Linked DNA regions of Homo sapiens: region 1 is linked to region 2. Evidence: fine-mapped expression QTL. A gene starts in region 2. The other region holds a variant in brackets. All regions are shown on one strand. Distances are between the middles of the regions.

Evidence for each region. PIP is the estimated chance that this variant, and not a neighbour inherited with it, causes the effect.
Region 1: its variant is fine-mapped to the expression of SEC31A in whole blood (TOPMed, PIP above 0.99).

The regions. Positions count from the first base shown.
Region 1 is chr4:82,862,212-82,877,725 of GRCh38, forward strand. SEC31A (SEC31 homolog A, COPII component) reads right to left here. Exons shown (of 27, transcript NM_001077207.4): 5 at 13,516-13,611; 6 at 12,400-12,540; 7 at 9,733-9,875; 8 at 8,114-8,213; 9 at 4,944-5,105; 10 at 4,597-4,749; 11 at 2,151-2,387; 12 at 1,107-1,181; 13 at 323-361. Among named protein-coding and RNA genes, the nearest start is that of SEC31A, 21 kb to the right of the region's middle. The variant T/C (reference allele first, on the strand shown) is at 8,209.
Region 2 is chr4:82,884,442-82,899,389 of GRCh38, forward strand. SEC31A (SEC31 homolog A, COPII component) reads right to left here and starts at 6,712. Exons shown (of 27, transcript NM_001077207.4): 1 at 6,647-6,712. It overlaps THAP9-AS1 (THAP9 antisense RNA 1), which reads right to left. Exons shown (of 4, transcript NR_034077.1): 3 at 11,251-11,333; 4 at 9,011-10,406. SNORD143 (small nucleolar RNA, C/D box 143) reads right to left here and starts at 11,487; the gene lies at 11,412-11,487. SNORD144 (small nucleolar RNA, C/D box 144) reads right to left here and starts at 13,784; the gene lies at 13,699-13,784.

The DNA of each region.
Region 1 (15,514 bases), 22 kb before region 2:
CCACTTTCCCATTCTTTCCTACCATTTTTTTTTTCCTGGCCAAAAAAAAAAAAAAAAATTTTATCTTAAGTATTTGAGTAGTCATTAATTCTGTTTTTCCTGCTTTACAAAATTCAAATATGTATGTCAAGAGAAAGGAATGCTCTACCAGCTAAGCTCATGTTATTTTAAAATGAGAATTATTAATTTATTAAAATATCTAGAATAAGCATTTATTTTTATACCATAAAGCATAAAACACAAATTTCTTAAATGATATTTCCTTCTTCGTTATGACCTAGCCAAAGTTTTAGAAGGTAGCTATTTTTAAAGGCCTTCTTACCACATTGGCTCCATCCACTTTGTTCAAGGCCAAAGCAATCTGAAATAAAAATAACAGCTCACCTACTACATGGAATTCTATTTCAGAGCATCCAGCAAATGTTCACCTCTTGCTTCTCACTGGCGAAAATCCACAAAAGTTCTTATAGGAATAGTATGTTTAAAAAAATTAAAAAAGCTATGCAGAACTGGTTCTCCATGGTGCTAGCTTCTTTCACATGGAAGTAATTAGAAATAATCCGACAATCATTCTATTTCCTCATTTTTTGCCATCAGGCATGCAAGTAAAACTTTCATATCAATCTCTTACAAGCCTAAAAAAGTTACAGCCTCAAGAAGTTTAGACTACTAATAAAGTTAAATATAAAACTCTAAAGGAGTGAGCAAAGACATAGCCACTAAGCAGTGGGGTTGTGATGTGATCTTAGTTAGTTCTGCCTGACATCAAAAGAGCACTAATCTTCAATATGCACTTAAAGTGCACAGTATACCTCTACCACACATGCAACAACCTGCAATGCTATAGAAAACTCTAGCCATTTCCAAAGAATGATGAAAGGCTAATACAAGTTACATAGTCATTTATCAATATGTATTCAAAACTCTGGCAACCACTGTGGGTAATGATGGAGAATAAGAAAAAGAAAAAGGGAAAAAACGCTGGCAACCAAACACAAATTATTATTAAATGTTTATTGGGTGATTTGAGATAATCTGTGTAGAACTTTATTTTTTAAAAGTATGATTCATAAAGAGCATGCCATCTAACTTTCCCAAAAGTTTACCTTCTTTCCTAGATCTTCTTTTCTGTATCCTAGAAGTTCAAGGTATTTTCCACGAGAATCATCCTCAAAGTTTACCTTTAAAAAAAAAGACATATTCTTAAAACAAAGACCTACATTTAAAGGCCGAATTTTTATAAGAATGAATCAAATTCCAAAGAGAATTATTAAAAATATCTGAAGTCTACATTCTAAAGATTCACTGTTTGAAGGAATCCAAAGAATAGTGGGTTTTTTTGTTTTTTATTTGGAGACCCAGCCTCAGGAGGTCCTGAGAACATGTGCCCAGAATTATTTTTTTAAATAAGTTATTTATTAATAGTAAATATACTAGTAATTAATTATCCTGGTTGAATAAAGCTTACTTTTGAACAGTAATTTCTGTAAATACAAACTTATGTCCAAAGGTTAAACTGATACAAAACTCAAACTATGTGGAATATTCTATGTCCTAAAATTCTTTCCCAAAATTATTACAAAATATAAATTCTTTAATTTTATACTTTAACCTAACTGTATTCAAGACTGCTTTACCTTTGAAAAACCAGTACCGTATAAAGAAACAGACATTCCAGTGGAGGCAAAATGACCAACCAGGAAATTCTATTTGTTATTCTAATCTAACTCCTCTTAAAGTAAAAGGAAAAATGCCTCCAACCTCTCTCCTCTATTCCTCTTCCTCTTTTTTCATTTTCCTTAACTAGATCTACTATAGATGTTAAATATTCTGTTTTCATTATAGTAAACTCTATGTACTCATCTTCAAAATAGGTGTGCTGACTATGTCGCTCTCCTCTAAACAGACCTATTATTATTTTTTTTTACTTATTAAAAATGTATTTCATATTACACTTTTCAAAGCAGAGAAGGAAAAACTCTGGACATAAGTTAGGTTGTATGCTCTTTATAAGGCTTCTTAATTTCATGATGAATTGCTGAAATCACACTTTTTCAATTGTTTCTTTAATAGGAGGACAGATTTAGAATATAAAGGAACAGTTAAATTTGCAGATAATGAAATAATATAGCTTTAAACAGCAACTTTACCTTCAAAAAGGACCACACATTTTTCTCAAATTCAGTCTGAGAAGCATCAATTTTTTTTTGGCAATAATTGATAAATCCTTGTGACTGCACAGCCTGCTGAAGTTGGTCTGATCGGCTGAGGAACTCCTTTTCTGTTACAACCTGACTAATGAACACATGGTGCTGCTGCTGCTGCTGCTCAGCTCCCTGATGAGAAGGCATTCTGACATTCTCAAACGTAACCAGTTTGCCTCCAAACTATAAAAGAGAGAATGAACAAACTCAGTGTTAACCCAAGGATATGGCCAAAAAAAGTGCTTATAAAGTGGCCTAAACAGATAATCTGGATGAAATTAGTTGATACAACCTCTCATGCGCCACAGTCTGACACCACTTCAATTTCTGTTCTAGATGAAATGTACTTTTTTGGTTTTTTGGTTTTTTTTTTTTTGAGACAGAGTTTCGCTCTTAGTCACCCAGGCTGGAGTGCAAAGGTGGGATCTTGGCTCACTACAACCTCTGCCTCCTGGGTTCACGTGATTCTCCTGCCTCAGCCTCCTGAGTAGCTGGGATTACAGGTGCCGGCCACCATGCCTGGCTAACTTTTGTATGTTTAGTAGACAGGGTTTCACCATGTTGGCCAGGCTGGTCTTGAACTCCTAACCTCAAGTGATCCACCCAGATAGAGAAGACCAGATAGGACGATGAGAAGATTAAGCAGATCCAAAGAACAGACTTACGAGTGACATAAAACATATTCAAAGGTCCATTTTAGGAAGATTAATCTTGGAATATGTAGTAGAGATTAGAGGGGGAAAAGACAAGCAACAAATATGAAATCAAGCTATTAGAAGTTTGGCATGAAAGAATTAGGCAAGGTATCAGCAATGTAAAAGGAAGAAACAAACAAAAAGTGCTAGAGAGGATGTGGAGAAACTAGAACCCTTGTGCACCACTAGTGAGAATGTAAAATGGTAAAACGGCTATAAAATGGTATGGAGGTTCTTCAAAAACTTAAAAATAGAACCATCCTATGATCCAGCAATCCCACTTCTGGGTATATGTCCCAAAAAACTGAAAGCAGGATCCCAAAATGATAATTACAAACCCATGTTCACCACAGCATTTATTCACAATAGCCAAAAGGTGGAAGCAACCAAAATGACCATCAAATGAATGGATAAAAAAAAATGTGGTATATATATATATATATATATATATATATATATATATATATATATATACAATGCAATATTATTTGGCCTCTAAAAAGAAGTAAATTCTGTCACACTACAACACAGATAAACCTTGAGGACATTAAGCTAAGTAAAATAAGCCAGCCACAAAAAGACAAGTACTGCATGATTCCATTTATATGAGTAATTTAAAGTAGAAAACTCCTAGCAACAAAGTAGAATGTGGTTACCAGGGATTCAAGGGAAACAGGAAATGGGGAGCTGTTGTTCAAGGGCACAGAGTTTCAGTTTTGCAAGATGAGAAAGTTCTAGAGATCTGTTGCACAACAACGTGTATATAGTTAACACTACTGTAGTATATATTTAAAAATGGTTGTAGTGTATATTTTAAAATGGTTAAGATAGTAAATTTTATATTATGCATTTTTTACAATTAAAATTTTATATTATGCATTTTTTACCATTAAAAAAAGCTGGCAATTAAAAAAGAAAGCTAAAAGGATGAAGAAGAGGGAGGACACTCCCTGCAAAAAGAAAAGAAAAAAAGAAGAAAAGAAAAGAAAAAGAAGGGAGGGAGGGAGGGAAAGAGAGACAGAGGGAGGGAAAGAGAGACAGAGAGAGAGAGAAGGAAGACAAATTTAAAAGGGAGGAGGGCCGGGTGCAGTGACTCATGCCTGTAATCCCAGCACTTTGGGAGGCCGAAGCGGGTGGATCACCTGAGGTCAGGAGTTCAAGACCAGGCCAGTCAACATGGTAAAACCCCATCTCTACTAAAAATACAAAAACCAGCCAGGTGTGGTGGCACGTGCTTGTAATCCCAGCTACCCAGGAGGCTGAGGCAGGAGAATCGCTTGAACCAAGGAGGCGGAGGTTGCAGTGAGCCAAGGTTGTGCCACTGCACTCCAGCCTGTACAACAGAGTGAGACTGTCTCAAAAAAACAAACAAACAAACAAAAAAATGGAGGAGGGGAGGAATATAAAGTGTTGGCTACACAACAACAATGTAAATGTACTTAATGCCATTGAACTGTATATTTAAAAATGAACAAAATGATCAATTTTATGTATATTTTACCATGATTTTTAAAAAAGGGAAAAAAAAGAGTAGGTTCCAATTTTTCAGAGAAACCATTTTGAATGATGAAATACCCACAAGTACATCTCAAATCCCAACTTAAACCCTGATTGCTTCCATCAGAGTGACTCTATAATAACACTTTGGTATAAAAAGTCCTTTGTGCCTATGGACCATAAAAACAAAATCCACCTACTGAAAAAGAAGCACCAACAGGCCTTCGAATCCACTTGGGCGGCTTCTTCAGAGGCAGCACTATACTATGCTGAGCAGTCTGCTGTGGAATTTGTAACGGAGGAAGGGGCTGTCCTGTGCCAAAGGGATCAAGATTCCCAAAAGATGATGAAAGCTAAAAAAGATAATAATAACATAAGCATCCGACCATACACAAAGTTTCATTTTTTTCCAGTCATATCCAAAAAAATTTTTGATCACAATTGTCCAATTAACCAGCATTGTTAATCAGTGAAGTCATTTCAAAATATTACACAACACATACTTTTTTCAGGCATTATAATAGAAAACTTTAACACTTCCTATTACCTTGTCAACTTGTTTCTGTCTTAAACCATCTGTGCTACCTCCCATGATAGAATAAACACTGATACGCCCATCAAACGAAGCAGCTGATAAGACAGCAGGATTTCGGGGACACCACTGAATATCGAAGCACCACTGTGTGTTGGTGGGAAGTTCATATAACACCTAGGCCAACAAAAAACAAACAACAAAACTCAGAAAATGGTATGGCCACTTTGTAACCAAAACACCTGAATTAATGTGGTCAACAAGTATAGTTAAATTGAATATTTTTTTGTAGAAAGTATCTTTAGCCAGGAAAAAGAATACTAAGATTTTTTAAAGTGCAAGAATGATCCATTACGATGACCTATTCTGATTAACAGGAATGCAGCTTAAAATTTCAATCAGATTTGAATAAACGCATTTTAAAAACTGAGGCTTTTCTGTGTTCAAAATAATGGATGCATTTGAAAGACCAGCACACTCTATTAGAGTCAACTTTTTTTTTTCTTTTTTGAGACAGGGTCTCGCTCTGTCGCCCAGGCTGGAGTGCAATGGCAGCAGCCTCAGCTCACTGCAACCTCCACCTCCTGGGCTCAAGCAACTATTCTGCCTCAGCCTCCCAAGCAGCTGGGATTACAGGCGCCCATCATCATGCCCGGCTAATTTTTGCATTTTTAATAGAGATGGCGTTTCACCACGTTGGCCAGGCTTGCCTTGAACTGCTGACCTCAAGTGATCCGCCCGCCTTGGCCTCCCAAAGTGCTGGGATTACAGGCGTGAGCCACCGCACCCGGCCTAGGGCCAACTTTTTAAACTCTAAAAGATTAGTGATGTCCTGTCCAATTGTTTTTGTCTGGTAAGACCCAAACAACAACCATATTTAGGTTACTTGAGGATCAAATTTTAAAATCAATCTTGAGAAGGAAGAATTCACTAAGAAATCTGACTTTTAATCACGAGAGAAAACATGTACTATACACAACCTTCCTATCACTGCAGAATCCTAACAGAATTCGGCATTAACAGCTTCCTTTAGAAAGAAAATGACAGAGAAAGAACTATAGAAAATGACCTACATGAGGCTGGGCATGGTGGTTCACGCCTATAATCCTAGCACTTTGGTAGGCTGAGGTGGGCAGAATGCTTGAGCCCAGGAGTTCAAGACCAGCATGGGGAACATGGCAAAACCCCATCTCTACAAAAAAATACAAAATATTGGCCAGGCACGGTGCTGCACGCCTGTAGTCCCTGTTAGCTGGGAGGCTGAGGTGGGAGGACTGATGGAGCCCAAGAGGTCAAGGTTTCAGTGACCCGTCATGGTGCCACTGCATTCCAGCTTGGGAGACACAGCAAGACCCTGACAAAAAAATAATTAATAGTACTAAAAAAAATAAATAAATAAATAGAAAATGGCTTATATGAAACCTTCACAATGTAATCCTTGTTGTGAACTCAAAGTTAGTATGGTGGTTAACTGCTACTCACAGAAGCAACATCTTAGGACTTTATGATAAGTCAAATGAACTTAACTCTGGCTTCATGTGACCTTCTTTTTCCTTTTTCTTTTTTTTATTTTTGAGACAGGGTCTCACACTGATGACTAGGCTGGAGTGCAGTGGCGCAATCACAGCTCATTGGAGTCTTGACCTCCTGGGCTCAAGCGATCCTCCTATGTCAGCCTCCCGAGTGGCTAGGACTACAGAACACGCCACCACACCCAGCTAATTTTTGTATTTGTTGTGGAGATGGGGTTTCACCAGCCTGCCTTGCCTCCCAAAGTGCTGAGATTACAGGTCTGAGCCACCACAAGTGGCCCACGTGACATTTAAAATGTTTCATTTTATTAAAAAATAGAATTAATTGAAAAGGTATTTAGCCTGCTCACGTCTTTGGTATTTATTTTGTTTGATAAGATGTGTGGTTTGATAAAACTTAGATGATTTATCTATCCTTTATTTGCATTTGAACAAATTCCAATTTTTATTTATTTATTTATTTTTTGAGATGGAATCTCACTCTGTCACCCAGGCTGGAGTGCAGTGGTGCGATCTGGGCTCACTGCAAGCTCCGCCTCCCAGGTTCATCCCATTCTCCTGCCTCAGCCTCCCTAGTAGCTGGGACTACAGGCGCCCGCCACCACGTCCAGCTAATTTTTTTGTATTTTTTTTTTTTTTCAGTAGAGACAGGGTTTCATCGTGTTAGCCAGGATGGTCTCGATCTCCTGACCTCGTGCTCTGCCCGCCTCAGCCTCCCAAAGTGCTGGGATTACAGGCCTGAGCCACTGCACCCGGCCAACAAAATCCAATTTTTTAGTTGTAGCATGTACTAAAAGTCTCTTCCTTCAAAGTCCAAGCACACACAACTAATCACAGGCAAAAATTCATCTAATTAAATTATATTACAGAGAAAATGATAACAGAATAGTAAGTTCCATGAATTTTGAATTTACTTGGCAAGGCACAGTGTAAAATTAAGATTTTTGTTATCTGTCCTACAAATGATATGCGGTAAAATTTATTAATTTTTTTTCTCTTGTCTCCCCTAATGTTAATGATTCTATATTGTTACATCCACAACTCTTAAACCAGAAACCAAATAACTAAAGGGCTTGTTTTAATTTTAACAATATAGATGAAAACTTATCGAAGACACTCTTTATTTTTATTAGCATTCCATCAAACTACATAAGCACTAGCAATCATCTACCTTCACATAAAAAAGGTAAAAATATAAAAGCTATAATTTATATTCTTGCTTTATCATTCAGAAGAGAGATTGGAAAACTGTATCTACTGATTTCCAGAAGTGAAAGAGGATCCTCAGGAACGGTAAAGCAGGCAAAAGATGCAAACCTTGAACAATCCTACATCGAAGATACTGATTCCCATAAACCACATGTGAAATAAATCAAAGTATTTCTGAGTCTAGGTAATAAACACATTATTGGAAATGAGGAGGGGATGGTTACTAGTTTAAAATATACTATTTGAATTACTGATTTTTCTGGTTAAAAAGCTGAGTTTAGATTATGTTCCTGATAAAATTGCTGCCAAATAAACACTGCACACACACGTCCACATACTCTTCACATAGTAATCCACTAAAGAATCCACACAGAAAATTTCTTATGTAGCCAGAAGTAACATACTATAAGGGCTACAAGGTTGAGACACATTTCCTGCCCATACCTCTCCTGTGTTTGGATTGGAGCAGAGAATCTTAGCATCTTTTCCACAGCTCAGTAACAATTCAGGATCTGCCATGCTCCAAGCAATTGCCAAAA[T/C]CCCCCTATAAAAAACATAAAGGAACAAGGAAATTTTTAATCTTGAGAAAACCAAATCTCAACTATTTCTGCCTAGGTTTTGTAGATTCACACATTGTTAACAGAAATACAATTAAATGCAAGAGTTTCAGCGCCGGGCGCATTGGCTCACACCTGTAATGCCAACTACTCAGGAGGCTGAGGTAGGAGAATCACTTGAACCTGGGAGGTGGAGGCTGCAGTGAGCTGAGATTGAGCCACTGCACTTCAGCCTGGGCAACAGAGTGAGTGAGACTCTATCTCAACATAAAATAAAAAAAGAAAAACAAAAAAAGAAATAAAAATAAAATAAATGCAATATTTTCAGAAGCAACTTAGTAACGTATATGCTATCTGATCATTACAAATACATGGATGTTCAATGTAGTGCAGTGTATGACAGCAAAAAAGTGAAAACAAATGCCCAACAGACTATTTCACAATAAATTACAGACCACCCTTCCATGAGAAAATATGTAGATAAAAATTATTCTATACACTTTGGGAGGCCAAGGCAGGAGGATTATTTGAGGCCACGAGTTCAAGACCAACCTGGGCAATATAACGACACTCTGTCTCTACCAAAAAATTTGAAAATCAGCCAGTTATGGTGGCGTGTGCCTGTAGTTCCAGGCATACTCATGAAGCTGAGGCAGGAGGATTACTTGAGCCCAGAGGCTCATGGCTGCAGTGAGCTATGGTGGCTCTATCCTGGGCAAATCAGCAAGACCCCATCTCAAAATATATACGTATCATTTTGTGGAAATCAACTTCTTACCATTATATGGTATTCATGATTAACGAAAAAAGTTATCTAACTATATGCACAAATTATCCTATTTGTATAAAAATTATATTGGGATTATACATGCATACACACACACACACACACACACACACAAGTAACGTAGGTACAGTAAAATGTTTTACCTATGGATGGGCATGAAATCTAACTGCAGTAAGTCGTTACTTAATTTAGGAACTGTGACTTTAAGCAAAACAATGGATAACAAAACCAATTTTACCATAGACTAACTGATAACTGACATAAACATTAAGTTCCTACGGTGGCCCATGCCTGTATTCCCAGCACTTTGGGAGGCAAAGGTGGGCAGATCACTTGAGGTCAGAAGTTTGAGACCAGCCTGGCCAACATGGTAAAACCCCATCTCTACTAAAACTATGAAAATTAGCTGGGCGTGGTGGCGCATGCATGTAATCCCAGCTATAAAATTTTTATAAAACTATAAAAATTTCCTGGCATGGTGGCTTGCGCCTGTAATCCCAGCTACTCAGGAGGCTGAGGCAGGAGAATCGTTTGAACCTGGGAGGCAGAGGTTGCAGTGAGCCAAGATCTTGCCACTGCACTCCAGCCTAAGTGACAGAGCAAAACTCCATCTAAAAAAAAAAGTTCCTGTGTCCTATGGTGTATTTCTGGTCACGAAAACATCACCGACATGTTCAGAAAATAAACAAATCAAGTTCTTTGTAACAGCAGCACGATACCTGGCATGGTTTTCCAGGACACGAAGTGGAGAGGAAGCAAATCGAAGATCCCACATCTGGATCACTGGTAACCGGTCATCCTCGGAGGCAAGGACCATCTGAGTAGCAACATCAGGATGCCATGCCAACCCAGAACAATGCATCTGAAGATAGTTAAGGTTCACATTTTATGAATCAAATTACTTTATGAAAAGCCAAACTACAACGAGAAATATACCTTTATTGAAACAAATAGTGAAAAACATCAGCTGTGGCTTATTTTATTTATGATCTATTTATTGTCAGCCAGGCTGGAGTGCAGTAGCGCCATCTCAGCTCACTGCAACCTCCACCTCCCCCAGGTTCAAGTGATCCTCCTGCCTCAGCCTCCTGAGTAGCTGGGATTACAGGCGCAAGCCACCATGCCAGCAAACTTTTGTATTTTTAGTAGATATGAGGTTTTACCATGTTGGCCAGGCTGGTCTTGAACTCCTGACCTCAAATGATCCACCCACCTCGGCCTCCTAAAGTGCTGGTATTACAGGCATGAGCCACCGCGCCTGGCCTTAGTTTATTTTAAACAACAAAACAAAAACAAATGTAAAACTACTAAATTTTATTGAACAGTCTTAAACAGTAGTCTTAAAAGTAAGATATTTGAATATTTTCTCAATTCATGCAGCTATTTGATACACACAAAACCATTCTGAGTCAGAATAACTGTATACCAAAAATGAGTTTTACTATCAAAACTATATAAGTTTAGAGAAAACATTTCATTGTATTTATTTATTTTTTTGAGATGGAGTCTCGCTCTGTCACCCAGGCTGGAGTGCAGTGTGGCACGATCTCAGCTCACTGCCACCTCCGCCTCCCAGGTTCAAGCGATTCTCCCGCTTCAGCTTCCCAATAGCTGGGAGTACAGGCACACACCACCATGCCTGGCTAATTTTTTGTATTTTAGTAGAGAAGGGGTTTCACCATGTTGCCCAGGATGGTCTTGAACTACTGAGCTCAGGCAATTCGCCCACCTCGGCCTCCCAAAGTGTTAGGATTGAGCTACTGCGCCCGGCCAGTAGAGAAAACATTTTATGCACATTTAAAATACTTTCAGAAAAACGAAAAACAAAAAACAGATAAAAGATTAACACATACAGGCTGGGCGTGGTGGCTCACTCCTGTAATCCCAGCACTTTGGGAGGCCAAGGCGGGTGGATCATGAGGTCAGGAGTTTGAGACCAGTCTGGCCAACATGGTAAAACCCATCTCTACTAAAAATACAAAAATTCGCCAGGTATGGTGGCGGACGCCTGTAATCCCAGCTACTTAGGAGGCTGAGGCAGGAGAATTGCCTGAACCCAGGAGGCGGAGGTTGCAGTGCCATGATTGCGCCCCTACACTCCAGACTGGGTGACAGAGTGAGAGTCCCTCTCAAAAAAAAAAAAACCCTTAAAAAAATTAACACACACACAAGACACAAAAAAACCCCATACTTTTCCTCTATTTTATCAGAAAAATCAAGGCAAAATATCTGAAGCAAAAACTACCATTTAAATTTTCATATGGAATAAATTAACATTATTAGGAACTATCTGCAAGTTCAAATTCTATTAAATATTCCACAAAATGACTAAAATGCTTCTGGTATGGTTTATTCCATTGAAACTTCTGTTTTAAAACTCCTGATTCACTTGAAAACAATACTCTGAAGAAGTGTTCTCCCAAATAGTTTTTTGTTGTTATTGTTGTTTTTAAACTACATATGTATGCCTGACTTTTGGCAAACTTATTTTAGAAAATGTCAAACTATCCAATGTACTCATAAACAAACAAACAAAAAAAGCTCCAAATTATATCTAAATTATTTTATGGCATCTAATGACATAAAAAAATAAAGATACCTAAAAGGTTCAGAATTTAATGTGCTCTATGGGTAAGTGCCGAAAATATATTAGCTCATTTTAGCAGTACCTAATCAGAGGAAGAGATGAGGCCAAGAAGTCAAATATTACAAGTTCACAGTGATGAAGCTTCCAGCAGGAAAAATTTTTACATTCTAAGAAAAGTTAAAGATGAATTAAAAAGTTGCTGCAATGGCCGGGCACAGAAGCTCATGCCTGTAATCCCAGCACTTTGGGAGGCCGAGGCAGGCAGATCACGAGGTCAGGAGTTTGAGACCAGCCAGACCAACATGGTGAAACCCCATCTCTACCAAAAATACAAAAATTAGCCGGGCTTGATGGTGCATGCCTGTAATCTCAGCTACTCGGAAGGCTGGGGCAGGAGAAGTGCTTGAACCCAGGAGGCAGAGGTTGCAGTGAGCCGAGATCACGCCACTGTACTCCAGCCTGGGCGACAAAGCGAGACTCCGTCTCAAGAAAAAAAAAAAAAAAGTTGCTGCAATGTTTTAAAACAGCTAGCAAAGCAAAACCACCAGTATATCATGGAATAAGTTCCTTGATTAACCAATCTCTCTTCATCATTAATAATATCCAACATATTTATTGGGAATTTTATGATTTTCCCTTAGAGGAAAAAAAACAAAACATTCCTTCTAACATGACTGATTAATAAAAAAACAGGATTTGACTTCACAGAAATTTGATTTGTTGTCAACTCTGACAAACAATATAGGAATACCTACAGCAGAAATACAACATGTTCATCACAAGTCAATCACATACTTACTCTGTTACTATGGTCACTGACTTTGATGATTGGCTCATTTTTTCTAAGATCCCATACAGTGGCCCGGCCACTGGGACTGGCTGATGCTAAAATATGCTGAACTTGTCTGTTCCATGCAATGCAGCTGATATCTTCTGGCGGCTACAAGGAAGAAACAGTTAATAAAAACTGCTTGTTTCTCTATTATAATCAAATTTAACTGTAAAATTGGATCCTTCATTTTGAAAAGTGTATTACTTAAAAATCTGATCCATTTATGCCACAAATTTGCTTTATAGTCCTACATCTCTACATTCTCAACACATAAAATTATATGACTTAAAATGCAGGTACATACCACTTCAAGTGTATTATCTTGTTTCATAATATCTCATTCAACAAGAATTTTATTGAATTTCTGCTATAAACCAAGTACTGTTTCTTTACTTTGCAACTGCTGCAAGGTAGATTATGGACCACAAAGTAGATGTTGGTGACTATGACAGAAAACTAGGCAGGGCAAAATTACAGCCTAGACCATTAGCAAAATACCTTTATAAATGGTAGTGCATATGCTGTCATTATGCTACCTCTCAGATTGCCAAAATGTTAGAGCCAGTTACAATGGCTACTCAAGTTGGATAGCCTATACAACATAAAGAAACTCAGGGAAGAACAGGAGAAGACTGTTGTTACCAAACTTAATAGAAATACACAAGCAAAGGGCTTGAGGTATTTATTTTAAACCTTGTCTTCCATGGTCTTGTCTAAGTGTGTTTTAAGAAGGTTGGTTGTTGCCAAAACACAGAGCAACTATCACACAAAGAACAAAAATAATTATACTATATCTAAGACAATTATTAAGGATTTTTGTTCATTTTGTTTACTACTGTATGCCTAGTACAATGACCAGTGTCTACCAGGTGGTAGGTACTAAATAAATATTTACTCTTGATGGACTCACTGATACTTTGAAGAAACATATTTATTAATTACTGAAGAAAAATCAGTAATATCTAAACAATGATTTTAAACATATATGTTTTGTGTGAGAAGCCTTAAAAGTGAAATAAGTAGGTTTAGGAGAACTACTTTTGGCTTTTTTGATTACAATGATCAAAATCAATATAAAAATACCTGTGTTTTGGCTCCTGGTGTCATTGGGGTTGCAAAATTATTTAGATCCCATATGTAGATTTCAGATTCATTAGCACCAGAAGCTACCAGATTAGTCTGCAAGAAGAAACCATAACTAAATAGCACTTATGAATAATTAAGAAAATTCAGAATAACTCAGTTCAGAGCTAGAAAGATATTAGATGTAGCATACACAATTTTTCTATTTAATTTGAAAAGTGAAAAACATATGCATGAATTTCTAAATTATGCATAATTCTTTCAAAATTTAAAGTTTTCTAGAAAAACATAAAATTCTACTTAACAAAGACAAAAGATGTCTACTGAGAACAAATTAATTTTAATGCAAGATATTATTTTAAAAATTATATGGATAAATTCTTTTTTTTTTTTTTTTTTTTGAGATGGAGTTTTGCTCTTGTTGCCCAGGCTGGAGTGCAATGGTGCAATCTCAGCTCACCACAACTTCCGCCTCCCGGGTCCAAGTGATTCTCCTGCCTCAGCCTCCCGAGTAGCTAGGATTACAGGCATGCACCACCACTCCCGGCTAATTCTGTATTTTTAGTAGAGACGGGGTTTCTCCATGTTGGTCAGGCTGGTCTCAAACTCCTGACCTCAGGTGATCCACCTGCCTCGGCCTCCCAAAGTGCTGGGATTACAGGCGTGAGCCACCAAACCTGGCTGGATAAATTCTTAATCAGTCATGCAACCATGTGAGGATTACTGTTTGTATCTTTGCATCTCTGGAAGGAGATTTAATTATAAGATTAAAAAGGTCATCAATTATTGCTTTCAGAAAAAGCTGAATCCTAAAACTGTGGCATCTTTCTCAGGATACCTCAAAGCCAGCTTCCAGAGCTGAATCAATACAGCACTAGTAAAATCTCTTGTCATAACTCTTCACATATTTCTAGTTCATATACACTCAATCTTATTCCAGGTGGCAATATTTCTAGGTTTTCTCTGGTACATACCTTAAGGGTCAAAAAGAACCTGAAATTGTAATATAAAGTACAGGAAGATAATGGGCTTCATATACTGACCTTCATCCACTACTATTTACTCTTACAAATTATTCTCTATCAGTTGGCATATAACTAAAAAAAGGGAGACATTCTATGGTAGTAGCTACCTATAACACAAAATACTTTATTAAAAATCATCAGCTGTTCAATACAATTAACAAAGGAGTTAGCTAAAGAGCAGATACCACAAACTATAGAAACGAAGGCTGGGCACAGTGGCTCATGCCTGTAGTCACAGCACTTTGGGAGGCTGAGGCAGACAGACCACTTGAGCCCAGGAGTTTGGGACCAGCTTGACCAACACGAAAAAACCCTGTCTCTACAAAAATTAGCCAGGTGTTGTGGCTCATGCCTGTAGTCCCAGCTACTCAGGTGGCTGAGACAGAAGACTTGCTTGAGCCCAGGAGGTCAAGACTGCAGTGAGTCATGAGCCACTGCAGTCCAGCCTGGCAGAGGGAGCAAGACGCTGTTTCAAAAAACAAAAAACAACAACAAAAAAGAAATAAACAAGTTGGGTTTCTGTATTGCTATACCCTAAGTATCTATTTATAATATAAGAAAAGGAACTATTTAAAATTTTCTTAATACTCATTTTTGGTTGTTATAATCTAGTATCCTATTAACTCAAGGTCTTTTTTTTTTTTCCAGACAGGGTCTCTATGTGTCACCCAGGTTGCAGTGCAGTGGTGTGATCATAGCTCACTGCAGCGTAGACCTCCCAGGCTAAAGCCATCAACCTACCTCAGCCTCCCGTGTAGCTGAGACTACAGGCGTGTGCCACCATGTTCTGCTAATTGTTTGCATTTTTTGTAATGACAGGGTTTCACCATCCTGTTCAGGCTAAGATCGTTATTAAGCTGTGCATTTATATAATTAACAACCAGAAATGTTTATGAAGGCAACAGTACAAAGAATCTTAATTGACTATTTGTTAAATCTGCATTACATTTCTTTTTTCTTTTTTTGAGTTTTGC
Region 2 (14,948 bases):
TGAGCCACAAAGTACAAAAAATTGCTACACATTTCCCAACCACATAACCTTTCTCACCACCAACATCGCACATCATAAAGGTCTATTTGTTTCGATCCATAAACTAACATGAACACATCATTATCACTGAAACTCCACAATTTATATGAGGGCTCACTCTAGGTGTTGTATATTCTATGGGTTTTGACAAATGTATAACAACATGTATCTGTCATTATAGTATCACACAGAGTAGTTCCCTTGTCCTAAAATCCCCTATGCCTATAATTCCTCCTTTCCTTTCAATAGAGCCTATATAGTGAATTTTTGTGAATTGTTCTTGGGACCTAGAAAGAAGGGGTGCTCTCTGTTTTCAGGGCCTAGAGCTCAATATATATTAACTAAGTCCTCTTTATTGATTTGTTTAGATCTCCTATATCCTTACTTTTTTGTCCACTTGATCTGCCTTGGACCGAAACAGTGAATTAAGTCTCTTACTGCTAATATATTTATGTCAATTTCTCATGGTATCTCCTGAAACTTTTGCTTTATGAAAATTACTTTGTTATTTAATAGTTATTTGGTGCATATCCATAATGTTCAAATTCACTGTCAAATATACACTTTAGCTTTATGAATATCCTTCTTTGTCTCAAATAATGACTTTTGGTCTGAATTCCACCTCTTGTTTGCCTTTACATGTATACTTTTGCCCTTCAGAACTACTTTGTCATCATTACAAACAAAATAACAAACAAAAAACCAACAGATTTTACTGGTGATCCAATTTGAAAATCTTTTCACAGTAGGTTAGCTAAGGACATTTAAAATGTATTGACATGACAGACATGGTTGGTCTTAGTTTTACCATATTTTACTTTGGTTTAATATCTTTGGGTAATAATTTTTAAAAAGTCTTTCATTGTCTGTTTTCTTTTTTGTGCAATTACCATTTTTCTGATAATTAGGATGATGTATATTTTCATTATAATATGTGTTTCTGATTCTATCTTTTTAACTGTAATTTTAAATATTTTACTTAATACCATTAATCCTCTATTTCTTTACACAGAAACTATTAACTCCCTACTATGAGCACTTATGAAATTAGCTTGTATAATCTTACTGCCCATCCACACAACATGGTTATAGTCAATAGTATTATCTTTCTCAGTGTTTACCTTTGAACTCCTTATACTTCTACTAACTGATCTGTCAGCTTTAAATGATGTCCTTTGACTCATAGCCATTACAGATGTGGCAATTCACAAACTTATTCTACCTCCAATTTCTTTCCTCTTCTCTTTTTATTAGTTGTATAATCAATCCCTTACATTATTGGACATTTAACATTTACATTTTATTCTTTCTTCCTCATTCTCACTTTTGTTCCAGTCTCAGTCCTGCAGTTAAAATGCATACTCAATGCTCTCCAAGAGTATTTTTGCCAGTTTCCTTACTCAGCTCCAGAGTTTATCCTCTAACATTTTCCTTAAGATTGCCTTAAACATATGCTCCGAGTCTTGTACCTGCAAATTGTTTATATTTGAAGGAGATTTTATAGAGGAAAAAATTAAGACACAGAAAGTTAGACAATCTGTACATGCTAGCAAGGGGGCAAGGGGCAGAGCCAAGATTGGAACTTGCAAGTTTAGCTCCAGAGTTCTTTCTACTTCCAACAAGTTCAGGTATTCAATTTTTATATCATAGAGGAAATATTAACATTTAGAAGAAACAATAACAAAGCAACCAGCATGCATGATGAAACTGAAGAAATGCATTTTAGAAATTGTGTTAGGTTAGAGCAAAGTGAGATTAGGAGGCAGGATGTATCACATGGTTAAAAGCATGGTCTCTGGAGTTAATCCTCAATTTAACTACTGGCTCTGTTACTTATTAGCTATGATACTTTGGACACATTATTTAACCTCCCTGAGCCCCAGTTTCTACATTCGTAAAATAGGGAAAAGAGTGACAACCTCATGGGATGCTGTGAGGTTCCAATGAGATCATACGTTTTATAATAGGGAGCCAAAAAAAGTGCTCAGCACATGGGTTAGTGCTTTTGATAGGTTTGCTATTTTTAAAGATTACCACTATCATGAGATTAAACAAGAAAACTTCAGGGTTATTTGGGGGGAAAAATTCCAACTTTCTAAGATATAAAAAAGGCATTTATTTTCTTACATGAATCTCCTCTTCTTCCTCTTTGCCAACTGTCTCACCTGATCTTTAATAATAAATTCAAGTTCCAGCTCCTCCATGAAAACTGCCCTGATGATTCAATCCACATTGATCTAAATACTCCCCGACAAGTTTGTACTTGTCAATACTATGATTTAAGCATTTTATAATAACGTCATTATATTTTAATAAACATTTTGTAACATTCTACTAGCACATATTGTTTACATATTTTCCAATTACCTTTTTTTAACCAGTTGCCTTATGTGCTATCTTATCTCACCAACTAGACAAATAACGTCTTTTTTCAAAACTTTTACCCCTTTTTAGACTCAAAATTGCTTAGCACAGAAGGAGATATACAGAAAGTTTTGATTTATTTTAAATGTTTATATTTAGGGGAAAACAAGTAGACTAATGAGCTAGAGTGACCAGTTTCAGATAAAACATTTACTTTTAAATTCTTAACTCTTTAAAGGATCATTTACTTTTTAAAAAAGGAGAAAGTATGGTTAAGGGGGAAAAGGTTATAAGATGCCTTCAGAATAATTTCTAAAAGTGAAATCAAAATAGCTGTATTATTAAAAAAATGGAATACAATTATAGTATTTCTAAGACCTAAGTACAAGGACTACCTAATTCATTAATGCTTGGTTAATGTGTAACATTGACTGAAAAAGAAAGAGACACATTTATAAGAACATAAAATAGTTAAATGTGAATTCAAAGCATTTACTAAAGTTTATTTCTTAGCCTTAGTACTCAATGTTCTAAGAAAACATTGAGAAAAGAAAAGAAAAGAAAAGAAAAAAGAAAGGAAAAGAAAATTGTGTGGGCTTGTTCATACATGCCATCTCCAAGACAGTATCTATAGCACGGCAATTAAGAGCATGGGGTCTAGGGCAGACACCCTCAGTTTAAATTCCAGCTTCACTATGTCCACCTCTGACTTTAATCATGTCGCTTTATCCATGTATGTCCTGGCTCCTCTCTCATTAAAATAAGGAGAACAGTATCTATACTACAGGGTTGTTGTGAGAAATAAGTGGTATTACTCAGAGTGGTTAGAACAGTGCCTGGCATATATAAACAAATGCTCATAAATGACAGTTATTACAAACATCACTACTTAAAACGTCTACCACCACGAAACTTCAAAAATACATCTATTAGGCCGGGCGCGGTGGCTCACGCCTGTAATCCCAGCACTTTGGGAGGTCGAGGCGGGCGGATCACGAGGTCAGGAGATCGAGACCACGGTGAAACCCCGTCTCTACTAAAAATACAAAAAATTAGCCGGGCGCAGTGGCGGGCGCCTGTAGTCCCAGCTACTCGGGAGGCTGAGGCAGGAGAATGGCGTGAACCCGGGAGGCAGAGCTTGCAGTAAGCTGAGATCATGCGACTGCACTCCAGCCTGGGTGACAGAGCAAGACTCTGTCTCAAAACAAACAAACAAACAAACAAACAACAACAAAAAAAACATCTATTAGCCAGGCGCAGTGGCTCATGCCTGTAATCCCAGCACTTTGGGAGGCCGAGGTGGGCAGATCACTTGAGGCCGGAAGTTCGGGACCAGCCTGGCCAACATGGCGAAACCCCGTCTCCACTAAAAAATACAAAAACTAGCCGGGCGTGGTGGTGTGTACCTGTAATCCCAGCTACTCAGGAGGCCGAGGCAGAAGAATCGCTTGAACCCGGGAGGCAGAGGTTGCAGTAAGCCTGGGAGACAGAGCGAGACTCCGTCTCAAAAAAAAAAAAAAAAAAAAAAACACACAAAAAACATATATATATATACACACAGACACGGCCAGGCGCAGTGGCTCACACCTGTAATCCCAGCACTTTGGAAGGCCGAGGCGGGCGGATCACGAGGTCAAGACATCCAGATCATCCTGGCCAACCTGGTGAAACCCTGTCTCTACTAAAAATACAAAAATTAGCTGCGCGTGATGGCGCGGCCAGTAGTCCCCGCTACTCGGGAGACTGAGGGAGGAGAATCGCTTGAACCCAGGTGACGGAGTTTGCAGTGAGCCGAGATCGCGCCAATGTACTCCAGCCTGGGTGACAGAGCGAGGCTCTGCCTCAGAAAAAAATAAAAAAAAAAAAAAATTTCTTGAGGAAAATTTATATTCTAGACTAGAACTCTTTATTTTTCATGCAACTTTCTCTCAATAATTGCATTCAATTAGGTGGAAACTTTTTTATTTCTGCTCATTTTCAAAGTGTAAATTTTGTGAAGCAATACTAAAACCCACCAGCACTGTTCTTTGAAAAATACCAACCTTGCAATGCTATATACAGAGCTGATCCATAACTCAGAAAGCAAGTAAAAAGTTAAAGAGGTAATAGAATTGGAACTTGGATTCCCAAACCAGGTATACAATCCCTAGTTGGCACTGCTTTCAGTAAAAATCCATTTTCTGCAGGCAAAATATCTCAATATGGATAGAAACAATTGTTTAGAGGATTTATTTAGTATTTTCAATGTTCTAGGTTCATTTCACTCAACCCAAACCAAATCAAAGGAGAAAGCAACTGTGCACTGGTTACTGAACTAATTGGTGTCATACTAATCTTCAGTATAATAAAACTTTTTGAGCTGAAATTAACCTAATGACATTCCTAACAACAATGTAATCAATGTAAATCAATCTAGTAATATCCCCTTACAGGAGTTTTTAACTTGTAAACTTCATAATATTATGTATATAGAAAATCCTACATGTCACTTGAAAGCAGGAGCTTGAGTCCAGCCTGGGGAACGCAGTGAGACCCCCATCTCTATAAAAAATAAGATTAGTTGGGCGTGCGCCACGTGCATATTCCTAGCTACTTCTGAGGCTGAGGCGGGAGGATCTCTTGAGCCCAAAAGTTCAAGGTTATAGTGAGCTATGACTGCACCACTGCACTCCAATCTGGGCAACAAAGAGGGACCCTGTCTCAAAAAAAAAAAAAAAGTAAAAGAAAAAAAAAGAAAATCCTACATGTGTGTATATGTGCATTCTTCCAATGCTTTCATTAGATTCCCGTAAGACAGTGAAATCCCCCCAAAATTTTGAATCATTGCTCTTCACAGTTTACAAATTTATTTCTATTCCCATGTTATTGGTTTCAATAAAGAATTTGCTTATATAAAATTAAGCAATATCATTATAAATCCACCTCAAATTTCAAATTTCACAAATAACCGCGGACGTATTTAAGATAAAATCACTACAAAACTACAAAAACACTACGAGTTATCCAAAAGTTCTTAAGAGTCTACAAACCTCTCCCTGAGCTGTTAATTAAGGGATAGTGAGAAACAAGGAGCACAGAAGAACCACTAAAAAAGGAGAGTAGGCTGGGCGTGGTGGCTTATGCCTGTAACCCCAGCACTTCGGGAGGCCAACTCGGGCGGATCACTTGAGGTCAGGAGTGCCAGACCAGCCTGACCAACAGCGTGAAACCCCGTCTCTACTAAAAATACAAAAATTAGACAGGTGTGGTGGTGGGCGCCTGTAATCCCAGCTACTCAGGAGGCTGAGACGGAGGTTGCAGTGAGCTGAGATCGCGCCACTGCACTCCAGCCTGGGTGACAGAGCGAGACTCCGTCTCAAAAAAAAAAAAAAAAAAAAAAAAGGAGAGTAAGCTTTTGCCAACTCTTGAATAAACGGAGGTACAGAAAACGCAGGACGCTGTAACAAGAACACACCCTTATCGATTAAATACAGTTATAACTGCCCACAAAGACAACCAAATTTCAGTTTTCTATAGTTAGAAAAAATAAGTTAGGAGAAAGGATTTGTCACAGACTATCAGATCACTGCAACTTCAAATAGCCCTACGTAAAATTAATTCCTTAAGCGCAAGAAAAAATTTATAATGCCCACAAGTCCAGGCAATATTTTGGTTTATTTTACAACAGCCCCGTAATTTAACAACTTATTAGCAAAAACATGTAACACTTAATGAGACTGCCCTCAAAGTACAGGCTGCGCCTGGCTACCACCGTCCTTAAAATAATCCTAGTTAAATGACAGTAGACGTCAGTTCAAACCTATGAACCTTTAAATCTGGCAATAGTTCAAGTACAAAAAAAAATCCTAACCAAAGCCAAAGTAATCCTGAGATTTTTTTTCCTCTCCTCACCCTCGGGGACCGCACCTCTTTGTGCACAAGGGTCTGAAAGTCTCCTAATCTCAAACTCCAGTTACCAGCCCGGCTACTACTCCCCGGCAAGACACTGTCGCCAGCCTCGGGTGGCTTTTGCTCAGCAGTGGAGACGTCGGCGAATGCGGACGGGCGCGATCACTGGAGTCCAGATGCCAGGCGTTGTTCCGCCGGGCCCGAAACCAAGACTAGGGGCGCGCCGTCACCAGAGACCGGGCCTCAGGCTGGTGCGGGGCAGCGGAGACCCAGGCTGCGGTCCCAGTTTTGGCCTGGGCTCTACCTCAAAGCTTAAGGACCGGCGAAGAGGACAAAAAGCAACGGGCGGACGCACCTGGCGAGGACCTTCGGCAGCCGGATCCTGCGTTAGTGCAGCGCTCGTCGGACTCTCCCAGCATTCGCCGCCGCCCCTCCTCCCCGGCCAGGGCCACCTCCACGTTCCGTTCCAACGTGGCAGCCGCAGCCGCAGCCACGCCCTGCGCCCAACACTTCCGGGAGCGACATCTTTCCCCGCCCACCCGACGCACAGCCCGCCACGGCACTTCCGGGACCGGCGGTAGCCTGGGAGGCGGGGTACGGCTCCGCTGGTTGGTGGCGCTCTGCGGTCATCGCGCCCCGGCGATCGTAGAAACCCTTTTCTGAGGGGCGGCGCGCAGAATGTGGATGGGGTAGCCAGGACTAGTGGGTAAAGGACTAGTGCAGAGGGTGTCCCCGTCTGGCCGAATAACCGCCGTGGCCCGCAGGAACGCCACGTAGCACTAGTCCTGTGAGGCGTCGGCAGCCCCTGGCGACACTGCCCGCGCCAAACCAGGTGGAAAATCGGGCTGCAAGGGCTTTATTGTAATTTGTGACTGAGTTCTTAAAATTACCCACTTGATTGCACATTCTGGCGTTTTGAGAACTTATACAAAGTGAAACAATCTGGGCATTCCCAAAGGCTATTGTGGACAAAGAGGTATAGATGGGGTGTTATATTAATTCCAATTAGTACCGTTTCATACTTGTTACTATCCCATGGTATTGAGACCCGGTAGCACTCACCTTCTGCCACTGTTTCTCCACAACCTCAAATCTAATTAGATGCGTTGCCTAAGTGTACTTTTAGTTTAGGGAGGAATTATTTTACAGCAAGGTGAAGCCAAAGGAAAATCACTTGCTAAATTACCAGAAATTGGATTCAACCCAGATCTCCTAACTTCTAGACAAGTTCTTTTCTCATTACATCTAGCATTCAAAGCCAACTCTTGCACTTTGGGTAGCTAAAGCAGAAGGATCCTGCCCCTTGAACAGCAGCAGTGTTAACATTCCCACAGTCAGCTACATCTTCTGTAACATTCCATCTGAAGCTTGCAGCTTCATAAGACAGCTTAACATCAATTCACGCCAACTTCTGAAATAATGAACCCAACTTTTACTGGTAGTAATATATTCTCTTTCAGTCTTCTAATTACCATTTTCTTTCAACGCAGTAACTAAGGTTATCACTTTGGCCTGAATGCTAGTCAAACTGATTGGGATTTGTTTTTGATTAGTCTTCAATTCAAACAAGTAAATGCTCCATTTCAACCGCAAGCAGCTTTCTGTTCCTAGTGCAATTAAAACTGAAAGACGTTGAAGCAACTTTACCTTTTTACATTTATCAGACTTTTTCAATAGGCTTGTATTACAGCTTCATGCAGGTCTGGGTCTCAACCTATCTTTGCTTTGCTGTCACCACTTTCAAATCTAATCACATCCAATTTCACTTCCAGCATTATCACTTTTCTTTGCTGCTCTGTCCTTTGTTGACCAATTACCTCTTTTAATTATCCATTTTTATAAATGGTCACAAGTTTAATCTCTGGGGTCAAGGAGGCAACAGTACTATGCACTTTGTGCTCTGCTATCTGTGCATGAACTAAACAGATGATCAGTAACAAATCAACAAACTTTGAAAGCAAAGTAATGTAACTGGCGACTGATCATGATGCACATCTTTTTTTTGGGGGGGGGGGCACAATGATTTGTGGACTAAAGAGCTAGCAGCAAAATTTATGCAAGTTTTCTCAGTACTGTGGTAATGGAATTATTAACCACATTGTTGGACTGGTTTTATTTAACTGTGGTCACTGGTATTTATGCATATTGGAACTGTGCAAAGACTGCCTGTATCTAAAAAAAGAAAAACTCTTTAGTTCACAAAACTAAATCCAATTTAGTTAACTACTATCCAAGCCTAATCCTGAATCAAATAAAAACTGAATTGCTCACTAGAAGAATGTTTGGAGAGAATTTAATGACAAATTTTTCAAATTAGGATTTGCATAGCACAAAGATATTCTAGGTTTTTTTAGAGACAGGTTTTTGCTGTGTTGCCCAGGCTGGAGTGTGGTGGCAATGATCACAGCGCGCTGCAGCTTCAACATCCAGGGCGCAAGTGATCCTCCCACCTCAGCCTCCCAAGTAGCTAGGACTACAGGCACACAACACCATGCCTGGTTAATTATTTTATTTTCTGTAGACACAGGGACTCATTTTGTTGCCCATACTGGTCTGGAACTCCTGGCCTCCAGGGATCCTTCTGCTTTAGCCACCCAAAGTGCAAGGATTATAGGCATGAGCCTCCATGCCCATTTGACATTCTTTTGGGAATTCAGATCCCTTCCCCTCATTTCAACAGTCTTGATGTCTGCAAAGAGTGAAGTTGTAGACAAAACAATCATCACAAGATACATGAATGTTTATGTAACTTTTTCCATAGCAGCCAGTACTATGCTTACACCTCAGTAAAACAGTAGCATCCATTTCATTGTTTTAGTTTGTTTCTGAATGCATTTATTTCACAAATTTGTTTAAGGGCTATAAACAAAATTTGTATCAACTTGTTTGTATATATTTACAAAACAGAAAATTAAGTCAGCATTAAGTCAACATGAGTAGTCACAGAATTTTTCCCCTTTATAAATGGTACATATTCAAGGAGACTTCAAAAAGTTTGTGGAAAAATGGTTAAAAGATAAAAAATATAAACTATATTTTTGAACATTAGCTCTATAGCATTCAAGACACTTTTGTAAGTGATGATACCAGCTATTTAGTCCATCCCTAAAGAACTGAGAGTTCTGGGAATTTATCTACATCAATGCAGTTTCTTTATACATTAACTTGAGAAAAATGTACTGCCCTGAAAAATTTTTTTAAGATTAGGAAACAAAAAGTCAGAAGGTGCCAAACCAGGACTGTAGGGTGGATGCCTAGTGATTTCCCATCAAAACTCTTGCAAAATGGCCTTGTTTGATGAGAGGGATGAGCAGGAACATTGTTGTGGTGAAGAACTCTCTGGTCTTTCTCGGGGATTTTTCTGCTGAAGCTTTGGCTAAGTTTCTCAAAACACTCCCATGATAAGCACGTTACCATTCTTTGGCCCTACAGAAAGTCAACAAGCAAAATGCCTTGAGCATTCAAAAGCTGTTGCCATGACCTTTGCTCTCAACCAGTCCTCTTGTGCTTTAACTGAACTACTTATCTTGGTAACCACTGCTTTGTGTTTTGTCTTCAGGATTGCGCTGGTAAAGCCATGTTTCATCTCCTGTTACAATTTTTCAATGAAAGGCTTCAAGATCCTGATCCCACTTATTTAAAATTTCCATTGAAAGCTCTATTCTTGTCTGTAGCTGATCTGGGTGCAATGGTTTTGGTACCTATCAGGTATAAAGTTTGCTGAACTTTTCCAGTCAAAATTGTGTAAGGTGAACCAACTGAGATGTCTATGGTGTTGGCTGTTGTTTCTGCTGTTAATTGTTGGTTTTCTTCAATTACGCCATGAACTAACTTTTTTCTCACAAACTGATGTGGATGATCTGCCACTGTGGGCTTCTTCTTCAACATTACCTTATGCCTTCTTAAAACGAGTTATCCATTTGTAAACTGATTTCTTTGGAGCACTGTCCCTATCAACTTTTCATAAAGCATCAATTAGTTCACCATTCTTCCACCCAAGTGTCAACATATATTTGATGTTTGTTCTTGCTTCAATTTTAGCAGAATTCGTGTTGTTCTGATAGAGCCTCTTTTCAAACTGATGTCTTATTCTTCTTAGTGCTTCAAACTAGATCCTGTTCAGACATGTTATAACAAGTTAGTAGGAGTTTATTTTGGTCCAAAAATTTTGAAATCCATGCATAGTTTTTTCATGATATGCATTTTCCATGCACTTTTTCAAGACCCCTCATATTTTCTTAAATTTGAGAAACAACTACAATAACAAGCCTAATTCATGACAGAACTAGTATTAGATTTAAGATTCCCAGTTTCCTATCACCTTCTTTTCTACTGTTCCTGAACAGATCCTTAAGTTATAGGCTAGTCATCCTTGGCATATCTAACAGTCATTTGTAAACCCTGGATCTTTAAGAATATCAGGTGCTGAAAAGATTATATCATTATTTCTAAGAAAAGATAACCAACAGCCAGGTGTGGTGGCTTATGACTATAATCCCAGCACTTTGGGAGGCTGAGGTTGGTGGCTGGAAGTTTGAGACCAGTCTGGCCAACATGGCAAAACATGGTCTCTACTTAATAAAAAAAATTAGCTGGGTGTGGTGGCATGCGCCTCTAATCCCAGCCACTTGGGAAGCTGGGCCACAATAACTATTTGAACCCAGGAGGCAGAGATTGCAGTGAGCAGAGATTGCGCCGCTGCACTCCAGCCTGGGCAACAGAGTGAGACTGTCAAAGTTAAAAGCTCCACCCCCTCCAATGCCTTTCCTGAATTGAATCTATTAATTAAAAAAATACTATTTTGAAATAATACTTATCTTTAAAAGCTGGAAGAGTAAGGAAAAGAAATTTTTAATTCAGAGTACAGTATCCACATTAGGCTGAAATAAATGTCAATTTTCTGCTCATACCTGACCTTTTCTGTGTTCTTTTATCAAAATAAATGTGTAAGTCCCATACCTTATTATATAAATCTTCAACTTCTTGATCAAATAAATATGACAAATGATGTTCTCTAAGAAAAACACCCTTCAATTTTATTCCTAAAACGAAAAACATTCAAAGGAACTCATTGTGCAGAAACACAATATATACAAGTCTCATCATTTTCTTTTTCTATTATGTCCTCATCCACATACATTAATCACAACAAATCATGATGTGAACAGCAGTGGAAAAAATTTAATCATTGGACATTTATTTCTTGAACTTCAGCTCTAGTTGTAAGATTCTCATTGCTTAGCTCTTTAAAACAAATGCATATATTTATCTAATGTAGAACAGTTAAGACCTCCAATTTTACTATAATTGGGAAAAAAACTCAGAACAAAGATTATGTCAAGTGTATCACTGTATTGACTTTGTTAACCTGCTATACATCTGACACAAGGGTAGGTGTTCAACAAGTGAAATACCAATCCTAAAAAGCCAGAAGTCTGTATCTGCTTTCATAGGGTTATTATGAGAAATAAATATTGTTTAACAGAACCAACTCTTTCTTTTTTGAGACAGAGTCTTGCTCTGTCACCCAGGCTGGAGTGCAGTGGCCAATCTTGGCCCACTGCAACCTCCACCTCCTGGGTTCAAGTGGTTCTCCTGCCTTGGCCTCCCAAGTAGCTGGGGTTACAGGTGCGTGCCACCATGCCCGGCTAATTTTTGTATTTTTAGTAGAGACGGAGTTTCGCCATGTTGGCCAGGCTGGTCTTGAACTCCTGAGCTCAGGTGATTCACCTGCCTTAGCCTTTCAAAGTGCTGGGATTACAGGTGCGAGCCACCATGCCTGGCCAAGAAAACCAACTCTTTCTATACACTATATATAAAAATCTTAGCAGCCTGGGCAACACGGCAAAACCCCTTCTCTACCAAAAATACAAAAAATTAGCCAGGTGTGGTGGCACACGCCTGCAGTTCCAGCTACTTAGAGAAGCTAATTGGAACTAGAGTATGGCTAGAAATTAGGTATTCCTACTCATATAATTTTCCTTGGGGTGATACTAACTTGGAAAGTTGAACTTTCTAAGAATTTTTCAAGGAATATTGTCCAATTTCTTCTGTGCAGTTATACAAATATTTGCTATAGGATGGAGTAAAGGTACAGATGTACAGCATCATTGAAGGAGTTTGACCTTTTTCCCCAAAGCTTGATTTTTATCCACTATGATGAATACATTTTACTAAATACTTGCTACTCTTTTCCTTCTGCTGCTTCCACCCCCACCTCCCACAGGCTTCTACTCCTCATCAGCAAAATATAGACCTTGTCAAGCAATCAGAATGTTCCTAATTGGCAGAACACTAATTCGTGCCTGAGATTTATAATCTTTTGAGTCTTCTTGTTTTCCTTTCATCACTGCTCAAAAGTTCTATTAGAAGAAAAAACACTCCCCCTTTTCCTTTAAGTCCTAGCACTGCTTCTGATATTTGGAAACCACTTGTCTAATAACAGAAGCATTACGTATAAAACAAAGCATAACTAGTTTTGGAGCGTATTAGGGTGTAGCTGCCCCTCCATATCAGGCTTGATGCTGAGAAGACACTTCCAAGTTAGCATGAGATTCTAGAAGTAGAAATAATTATGTAACAAATAATGATATAACAATAATTTCAAAACTCCATGGCTTTCTGAAACAAAAGACAGAACTCAAACAATGAAAAATTCGGCAACACAAAAGGGTAGGTCCTCAACAAGCAAGATACCAACCCTAGAAAGCAAGAAGTCTATACCTGCTTTCATAGAGTTATTATGAGAAATAAATATTGTTTAAGAAAACCAACTCTTTCTATATACTGTATATAAAAAGCTTAGCAGCCTGGGCAACATGGTAAAACCCTGTCTCTACCAAATATACAAAAAAAAATTAGCCAGGTGTAGTGGTACATGCATGTGGTCCCAGCTACTTAGGAAGCTGAGGTGGGAAGATTGCTTGGGCCTGGAAGACAGAGGTTGCAATAAGCTGAGATTGCGCCACTGCACTCCAGCCTGGGTGACAGAGTGAGACCCCATCTCAAAAAATAAAATAAAATGAAATGAAATTAAAAAAAGCTCAGCATAATTTGTGGCCCATAGTAACTGGCCAATAAATAAATATCTGTTATTATTCTTTCCAAGTGGACAATTAATGAGATTATATACCATAAAATAGGTAGATTTCATTAAAGCCTTAATAAATGTTTTTTACTTGGACAATCCTCCATTTCCAACTCACTGCTATAGTTCCAGGAATACTTAATACATTTAAAATAGAAAGATATACTACCTTCCCTGCATATTTTGAGTAATTATCTTCCAAGACCCATGTATCTTTTCTCAACATCTCTGAGAGTACAATTCCTGAAAAGAGATATTTTCTTTTAAAATTTTTTGTGCAATAGTCAATGCCTTTGCAAATAACACTATCTTTAATACAGCTTACATATCCTCATTTAAGTATTCAATAATCACAACGGTTCATTATGTGAACAGCAGTGAAAAGGTTTAATCACTGGATATGAAGTTACTAGAAGAAGCAATGATATAACCAAATGATCAGATTGAGAACTTCCATGTCAACAGTAAAATAATCACAACAACAAAAAAAGTATAGATAAGTTATAAACAAATGTAAAGATACAAAAATACAACTAAGAAAAAAAAATTCCATCTATAAAGGATTACTTATTTCCTATGCAGAAGTAAATATCTAGAGCAGTGACCCCTTGCGGCTATTGCCTTCATTTAAGTAAATCTGTTCTGATAAAAGCAGTTTTCAGAAATTCATCTGAAATTAACAATTAAAGGAATGTTGTCAGAATAATGTAGGAAGCACACTATTTCATCTTTAGGAAAGGCAAATAGTTGCAATCCAATTAAACAGGAAAGAAAACAGCCCTCATTTCAGATGATGAACTGGCAGCAGTACTTTCAACTCTACCTTAAGAAAATGGCAAGTGAATGCCTGTATCTGCAAACTTTTGAGTCCTTAAGAAAAGGCAAACACCACGATGAGACAGCCACTTCACATGCACAAAAATGTGGAGAAACTGGCAGCCTCATCCACTGCTGGTGGGAATGTAAAATGGTGCAGCCACTAGGGAAAATAATCTGGCACTTCCTCAAGAAGCTAAACACAGTTATCTTATGACTCACCAATTCCACTCTTAGGTGTGTAATCAGGAAAATGAAAACATTTGTCCACACAAAAACTTGTACACAAATGTTCATAATAGTAAAAAAAAAAATTGGAAAACCCAAATGTCCACCAACTGTTGAACGGATAAACAAAATCTGCTACATCCATAAAATGGAGTACGATTCAGCAATAAAAAATAAAGTACTGATACGTGCTATAAGATGGATGAACTCTGAAAACATTCCAAGTGAAAGAAGCCAGTCACAAAGACCATATATTAGTTCATAATTCCACTTACATGAAGTGTACAGAGCAGGCAGAGGCACACGGAAACTAAATTAGTGTTTGCTGAGCGGGGTGGGGGAATATTTGGAGGTGCTGCTAGTAAGAATGAGGTTTCTTTCTGGAGTGATGAAAATGTTCTAATATTGATTGTGACTGTTCCACAATTCTGTGCATATACTAAAACCCACTGAATTGTACACTTTAAACCAATTAGTTGTGTGGTATGAGAATTATATCTGAGTAAAACTGTTACAAAAATATAAG